2 linked regions of the Homo sapiens genome follow. The protein of the gene in region 2 purifies or fractionates together with the protein of the main gene of each other region. This does not show direct contact. Each region holds a gene or a part of one and is shown on either strand. Other genes may lie near its edges.

Region 1 (3,823 bases), on a different chromosome or scaffold from region 2:
CTCTTCAGGAATTGCCTCGCTAATAATACATGTTTCTTTCTTATACTTGGGGTACAAAAATTAGTATCTCAGACTGCTTTGGATAGATTCAACATACGATGTTGGGTTTTAATTGATAATGGATGAGTTCAAGGTTTTGGCCCATAGAGAAGCTTCCCACCATTATGTAGGCCTTCTTTGTACTTACTTGTACCATCTTTAGACTAGGTTTATCTGTTTGAAGTGTTATTTTTTCCCCCATTCAGGATATGGTAACCAAAATATGAGATATAATAAGCTGGAAATTTTACAGAGTGGAGGTAGATTCATTGGAGTTTTTTGAAAATTTTAAACTATTTAAAACAATTTTTTTAAACTGTATTTAGGATAAGATAGTTTGAAAGGTTTCATTCATTTTAGAAACTCACCCATTCTGTTTATTTTCAACAAGTTGAGCCACTGAGGATGTTTTTTAGATATGTCTTTTTCCCCTACCCCACATATGTAAGTATATAATACACGTAAATAGAAGATAACAAACTTTTATGTAAAATATTAGAGGTCTTTGAAACACAGTATTTATAATTACTTAGATTTTGGACTTTTCTTCCCTACTTTGTAGAGTCCAATTAACAATGTGTCTCCGTGCCATCATAAAACATGATTTTCCTGGTCACTGGCCAGGAGTGGTCGACAAGATAGACTATTACTTGCAATCACAGAGCAGTGCAAGCTGGCTTGGCAGTTTATTATGCCTGTATCAACTGGTGAAGACATATGAGTAAGTTGGTTTCCATTGGCTGAAGAAAGCAGCCTTGTGTAACTTAGAAATAATGAAGTTGCAAAGAGTGGTCTGTTGTGGATGTTCTGCACAGGTTATCAGATTAGTTTGGGAAATGTTGGGTTAAACATGCTTAAATGTGTTTATTTGCTGCAGTTATTGAAAGAAACTTTAATGTGCTGATGGATATTGCTAACCTCTGAGACAGTGATATAATATGAAGCACTTCTCAAACTTGTTAGTTGCACAGTACCATTTATTAACAGCTTTCCTTGGAAACTCTGATATAGAGATACCTTTATATTTGTCTTCTAGGGAGTATATTAAGTAAACCAAAACATTTACTTTTTTGGATGCAAGATAGAAAATGTTAACGTTTCTTTGCTAATGACATTCTTTTCCATAAAAGTAGCTTGGGTAGGTAGAGGACTAATATCACACTTAATAGTATTGCTTTCTGGTTTCTAGGAAGATTGCTACATGTGTATATGAAGTCCTGTAGTTCTCCTTTTAAACTGACTAGTTCCTACTCTGCTTATGAAATTTATAGAACATATTTTAGATTTATGGCAATTAAAGCAATCTAAGAGCACCTAAATTTTAAACTATTTTAACTACTCAATTCAGGGAGAAATATAATAAGAAAATTCCCCCCATATTATTTGTTATATAGTCTATTTAAAATAGCATAGCAACTTATATTTTATAGTAAGAATTTTGGCTGGATGAAAATTAATTTAAATACTAGAAACATTCATGTAGGAAAACTGCAAAATGGTCTCGGGTTGTTTTAAACTAGTCTAAATCTTTCCAGAAAGATTTTAGGTGTTGTGCCTAAAACAGGATGTGTTATTTTAAATTTCTTTTCAACTTAATTCTAGCAATTCAAACAAACTAGAAGCCAATGTTAATGACTTTGTTTTGTTAGTTTTATGTATTTAAAAAATATTTTATAATTTATTGTTGATGGTTCTTTGGGTGGGAAAAATTACTTTTCTGTTTTTGTCTTTGCTCATGTAGATATAAGAAAGCAGAAGAGAGAGAACCTCTTATAATAGCAATGCAGATATTCCTGCCTCGTATTCAGCAACAAATTGTTCAGCTCCTTCCTGATTCCTCCTATTATTCTGTATTACTGCAGAAACAAATTCTGAAAATCTTTTATGCACTTGTTCAGGTAGGTTTCTATTGCAGAAAACAAACATGGAGTCCTGTATTTCTGCCTGACACATGGAAAGTGCTCAATAAGTGTCACTTATTATTAAAAATTATTTTGTATTATCCCATATATTTCTTTAAAAAATGCTTATGAGGAACAGGTTCACAGAAATTAATTACCCAAGATCGTCTCAATGGCATATCTGCCCCTAAGTGCTTTTCACTCCAGTGTCTGAAATCATGGGTAAAGCAGAACCAGGGTAGGTAAACCTACCTGCTCTAAAACCTGATTACTCGCAACTATCTGTTCTGTAGCATTCCTGCCTATAGATTAGTTATGATTACAAGAGAAGAAGAAGGAAAAGAAGAAGGAAAAGAAGAAGGAAAAGAAGAAGGGAGTCCCTCTTCTATTGGGAAATCATATTGATGGTAGTTTCTTTGCATTTGACTCAAAGCTAACAGAGGATTTAGGGTTCATTTTCCTTGGTTTAAAATACTGCCTAAAAAAAAAAAATCTGAATGCTATAAGGGATACCAACATGGGAATCCGGAAAGAAATGAGAAGATAGAGATGGAATATGTTTGAAATATAAAAATATTTAACATCAAATCCTTGAAAGATTTGGGTAAATTATTTAGGTCTGATTGGAGGAAGAATAATTGTTTTCAGTCTTAACTGTTTGATGAATGAATTAAACTCTATTACATGCTTTCTAGTTGAATTTGTCGTGAGAAGAGGATGGTTTTGTTGAGCTCAAAAACCATGATAGTTTGGATCCATCCTTGGCTTTTTATTGACTTAGATACTTAAACTATTTCAAAATATTTTACTTTAATAAAGATTTATATTTTTATTAAAGCTTCCCCTTTTAAACTTTTAATAGGGATAGTCTGAGGCAGATATTTTTTTTTTTCCCCCAGAGCAGCCTTTTTGCAGGGAAAGAGAAGAGGGAAGGAGGCAAATGTGAGAAGAGAAGAAACTAGAATACTAGGAAAATATGTTCTCTCACTTGTTTTGAAATAATATTCAGAGGCCAGACTTCCTTTTTCTATTGGCAGAAACAGCTAGAAATTGGGAAGTAAGACAAAGGCTAATGAAATAATTTTTCTAAAGCCTCTACCTCTAATTGGTTTGCTAAGACGACAGAATCTTCATATTTTTCTCAGTCTATACTTGCTAAAAACCTGGAAAACCTCAACATTTTTAACCATTTTGGTAATCTGTTATGTACTAATACATTAATATTCTCCTCTGGGAAGTAGAAATTTAGAAGGCATTAGGAGCCACTATTACAATGCTGACATAAGTAAAAAGCGATAATATGAGAAGGAGCAGACAATTTTGTTTTTAAAAGTATGAGCAGCCGGGTGCAGTGGGTCAGGTCTGTAATCCCAGCACGTTGGGAGGCCAAGGTGGGTGGGTCACCTGAGGTCTGGAGTTCAAGACCAGCCTGGCCAACATGGTGAAACCCCATCTCTAGAAAAATACAAAAATTAGCCAGAAATGATGGCGGGTGCCTCTAATTCCAGCTATTCCAGAGGCTGAGGTGAGAGAATTGCTCAAACCCAGGAGGCGGAGGTTGCAGTGATCTGAGATTGCACCATTGCACTGCAGCCTGGGTGACAGAGCGAGACTCCGCCTCAAATAAAATAAAAGTATGATACAACAGATCTTGTCTAAGTAGCATAATATTTGTACAGGACACTTGGATATTCTATACATAAGCTCAGCCTAACCCTCAGCCTACTTCTCCTCTGTTCCCTATATCAAATCCAAATGGCTTCCAAATGCACTTAGAATAAAGTGCATTTGAAACTTCTTAATATAGCCCATAAAGCCCTTCATCTCCTCACCTTCTTCTCTTATTCCTACCTTTGTACATGTACAGTCATGTGTTACTTAAC
Region 2 (4,596 bases):
TCCCAACCTTTTAATTTAATTGTCTTTACCATTAGTTTCTAGTATCTTTTGATATAGTTTTAATTTTTAATGAGGTCAAATTTATTTATTGTTTTCCTTATAGTTTGTATGTTTATGCAGTTTAAAAGAAATCTTGTTTTACTTGAGCTCATAAAAAAATGATTCTATAGAAGCAAACTTGTGAATAGAAAAAAGAGCAATTATTCTAAATTTTCTTTTAAAAGTCTGAAAGTTAGCTGACTGGAATTGATTTTTTGTGCAACATATAAAGTAGAAACCCAATTTTATTTCATTTTTCCATTTAGATATCCAAATATTACAGTACTATTTGTCAAGTAGCTCCTTTATTCCTCACTGATTTGTAATGCAATTTCCACCATATATCAAGCATCCACACATACATGTTTGTTGCTCAGTCCTCAGTTCTGTTTCATTGGTCTATTTGTCTGTAGTTGTGCCAATACTATATTGTCTTAGCTGCTATAATTTTATAATAAATTATATAGGGCAAGTTTCTGCAGCTCCTTCATTTGTTTTAAAAATGTCTCGGATTCGTGACTCTTTCATTATTCCATATACATTTAAAATCAACTAGTCAAGTTCCACTGAGCACAATTGGAATCTTGATTTGCTTTGTACTGGATTTGTGTATCAATTTAGGAAGGAATGATATCTTTATGATATTGAGTTCTCATATATATAGGTGTATATACATGTCTCATATACAGGTGTATACACATGTCTTATATACATAGGTGTATATACATGTCTTATACATAGGTGTATATACATGTCTCATATACATAGGTGTATATACATGTCTCATATACATAGGTGTATATACATGTCTCATATACATAGGTGTATATACATGTCTCATATACATAGGTGTATATACATGTCTCATATACATAGGTGTATATACATGTCTCATATACATAGGTGTATATACATGTCTCATATACATAGGTGTATATATATGTCTCATATATAGGTGTATATATATGTCTCATATATATAGGTGTATATATATGTCTCATATATATAGGTGTATATATATGTCTCATATATATAGGTGTATATATATGTCTCATATATATAGGTATATATTTCAACTACTTATCCCTAATGAATAAAGTTACTAATGTTTCCATTCAGGTATCTTTTGTAAGTATTTGCTTCTGTGATAGATGTCTTTTAAAAATTCTATTTTTATAATTTTGATGGAGAATGTGATTGTGAACATGAATTTTAAAAAGTCCAGCCAACTTGCTAAACTCTCTTATTAATCATCATAATTTGAGTGTTAGATTATCTTGGATTTTTTATGTAAACCACGCAGCATGTTCCTTAAAATTTATGTATTTAGAATTCATATTCTAATTAGGCAATGCAATCAACTCTAAAATTAAAAGTACATTTAAAACATGCACCCTAACACTTTCCTTCTCACTCTTGTCCCCGTTTTCACTCAGTTTCTGACCGTTCACCTCTCGTAGGTAACCACCATTATTAATTTTCCGATTTTTCCAGGGCTTCTTTGTGCCACACACGCACACATAATTTAGATTCTTTTTACTCTCTTCTATTCGCAAATATAGCAAATTATGAAAATAATTCTGCACCTTGCCTTTCTCCCTTAGTTATAGCTGGAAAAATAAAAATTTAAAAGCCTCTTTAATAGCAAAAGGGGAGGGGACACAAGGTGCCGAGCTAGCAAACGACAGAGTCTGTCAGGGAGGTGGCTAGAGAGGCCCGGAAGTGGCTTCTGTGCCCCGCCCTGCGGGTGGTTTGCTAGTTTCAAGCACTTTGTGAGTATGGGGTGAATCGGCGTCGGCCTTCCACTGTGGGGTTAAATCTCATCCCGCGGCTCTCCTCCTGTCGGTCCTGCAGTTCTTTTGTCCCCGGGTAGAGGTGCGTTTGCAGGAGTATGTGTGTGTGTGTGTGTGTGTGTGTGTTTGTGGAGAGAGGCCCTTCCCTCCCCAGTTCCTGCAGCCTCGGCTCCCAAGGAGGGAGACCCCTGCGAGAAGCCGTGGGGGAGGGAAGGGCGCTCTGCGGCGGAATGAAGTGGTCCTCGGCGTTCCTGCGTAGAGCCCAATATGGGTGTCCCTTGTTTAGGGCCGTTACCGAGTGTCCGGGTCGGTTCTTGAGGGTATTTGGAGACGGGATGCATGGGTCACATAGACAAGCCTCGAGAATGGGAGCCGTTACATTTTTGCACTGCCTGGTAACAAGGTCAGTTTCAAGGTCTTTAAATTATTCTGTGGTACTGGCCAAGAGCCAGAACGTTGGAGTCAGATTACCTGGTTCAAATCCTGCCTCTGCCACTTACTGGCTGTGTGACTTTTCACTAGTTCCTAAGCTCTCTCTCTGCCTCATTTTACTATTTTGTAAAATGGGGATAATATTCCCTAACTCACTGGGTTGTTGTGAGGATTGAATGCATTCGTATGGGTAAGGTGCAGAGTAAGCATGATTTAAAGATTTGCTTTTATTAGTGGTACTATTATTATTTATAACTATGATGACACATTAGTGACTGGCTTTTGTACGGTTGCTTTCAATTTTACTGTCATTCATCAATTCACTTTGTAATGGATGATTTCTATATTTTAGGAGGGAAAAATAAGATACTCTGAAAAAGAGCCTATCCCAAAGCAAAGACCAAAACTGGTTTGTGTTGGACGTTGTGATACTCAAACTCTCAAAGGCTTTAAGACTCGGGGGTACCTTTTCCTTGGCTGGAGATTAGGAGGAACAATAGAAGTTTTTAATAGTGAAAAAGGACTAGGACCCCTGGTTTTTGCAAAAATCTGATGTCCTGCTTAGTGCTGGAGATCCACCAGTTTTCGAGCTTCCAGGAACGCCCTAGCCTGAAACTGGCTTCATACTAACACCCTTCATTTCAACCCAACTTTTACAGGGTTAGCTCTTTCATAGACTTGTAACTCTTTTCTGTTAATGAGAAACTTTCCTTTCCTTATCTTCAGTATATTTACTGATTTGATAAATACTTTGTGTTGGCAACCAATTTCCCAATCTTGTGCCTTCCCACTGTGATCAGTTTGGCTCAGATCCAAGTAGGGGCCAGGTAGTGAAACCTAAATGGAGTTTGTGGAATAAATGATATAAATGTATCAGTGTTGTTTTCCTGCCATAGACTTCCTCCCTTCCCCACCGTGGACACCCTCCTCATTCCACTTGGGCTCCAGATTCACTCTGGGTTGGGCTGTGGCTCTCTCTCGCCTTCCTTGACCCTACCTTAATGCTTTTTGGCTGTATTATTCAGGAAGGAAAGAAGTTAGGACATTGTTTAATTTTCTAAAATTTTGGAGAGAAATTTAAACACATTTAATTGTAGAGAGAATGTTACAATGAACACCAATATAACCATGACTCAGCTTCAGCCATCATCTTTTGGTCATTTTCTTTCATTCTTCTTTTCCCTCCTTTCCACTCTCTTTCCTTCCCTTCTCCTCCTCCTTCCCTTTTGTCTCCCTCCTTCCCTTTTACTTCCTCCCTCTTTCCCTCTCTCCTTTCTTTCCCTCTCCCTCCTTTCTTTGTCTTCCTTTCCTTCCCTCCCTCTCCCCCTCTTTATCTCTTTTTTTTCCTCATTTCGTCCCTCTCTTCTCTTTCATTTTATAGCAAATTGCAGATGGAAACATTTTAGTTCACTCACAAGTACAAGTACTTCAGTGTCAATTTCTTATATACAGGGACTTTTATCTTAATATAATCATAGTATCATGATCACACGCAAAAAAATTGACAATAATTCCTTGATATCATTATCTTGATTTTCAAATAATTGTCTCAAATATTTCTAGAGTTTTTTTTTTTTACAGTCTTTTTACAGTTGTTGTTTTCAGTGGGGTCCGAATATGGTTCACCATTTGCATTTATTTGATAAGTCTGTTCAGTCTTCTAATCTATGACAGTTCCCATTCCCTCCCACTCCTTTTGGTAAAAATGCCATTTATTTGTTGAGGAACTTGAACCTTCTGTTTTATAAAATGCCTCACATTCTGGATTTGGTCGATTGCTTCTTTTTAGTATCTTTAACTTATTAGATCTCAAACTCAGCTGCACATCAGAATGACCTAGAAAGTTTTAAAAGTTATTGATGTATTAAAAGTCCCACCCCCAGAGAGTGATTTAATTGATTTTTTTTTCATTGCAATCTCCATCTCCCAGGCTCAAGTGATTCTCATGCAACAGCCTCCCAAGTAGCTGGGATTACAGGTGTGTACCACCACACCCAGCTAATTTTTGTATTTTCAGTAGAGACAGGGTTTCGTCATATGGGCCAGGCTGTTCTTGAACTCCTGACCCCAGGAAATCTGCCTCAGCCTCCCAAAGTGCTGGGATTACAGGTGTGAGCCACTGCACCCAGGCTGATTGATCTTGATTGTACCCAAGGCATTAGGATGTTTTAAAAGCTCCCCAGTGATTCTAATATGTAACAAAGTTTGAAAGCCTTTAATGTAATTTGCTCCTATATTTCACCTGTACACTGGTATTTGGATCTAAAGACTAGATTAGATTTAGGCTCACTTATTTTGGTATTATTAGCTCATGTAGGAGTACCCCAGATCT

The links.
Region 1: the proteins of ZKSCAN3 (region 2) and IPO8 purify together in Homo sapiens (co-immunoprecipitation; one large-scale study listed by IntAct). This does not show direct contact.

Annotation. Positions count from the first base shown.
Region 1 is NC_000012.12:30,678,596-30,682,418, reverse strand, and holds part of IPO8 (importin-8), read left to right. Parts: intron 1-601; coding exon 602-760; intron 761-1,780; coding exon 1,781-1,937; intron 1,938-3,823. UniProt on the Homo sapiens protein: Involved in nuclear protein import, either by acting as autonomous nuclear transport receptor or as an adapter-like protein in association with the importin-beta subunit KPNB1.
Region 2 is NC_000006.12:28,348,154-28,352,749, forward strand, and holds the start of ZKSCAN3 (zinc finger protein with KRAB and SCAN domains 3), read left to right. Parts: upstream 1-1,793; 5' UTR 1,794-1,914; exon of another isoform or gene 1,915-2,235; intron 2,236-4,596. UniProt on the Homo sapiens protein: Transcriptional factor that binds to the consensus sequence 5'-[GT][AG][AGT]GGGG-3' and acts as a repressor of autophagy. Specifically represses expression of genes involved in autophagy and lysosome biogenesis/function such as MAP1LC3B, ULK1 or WIPI2.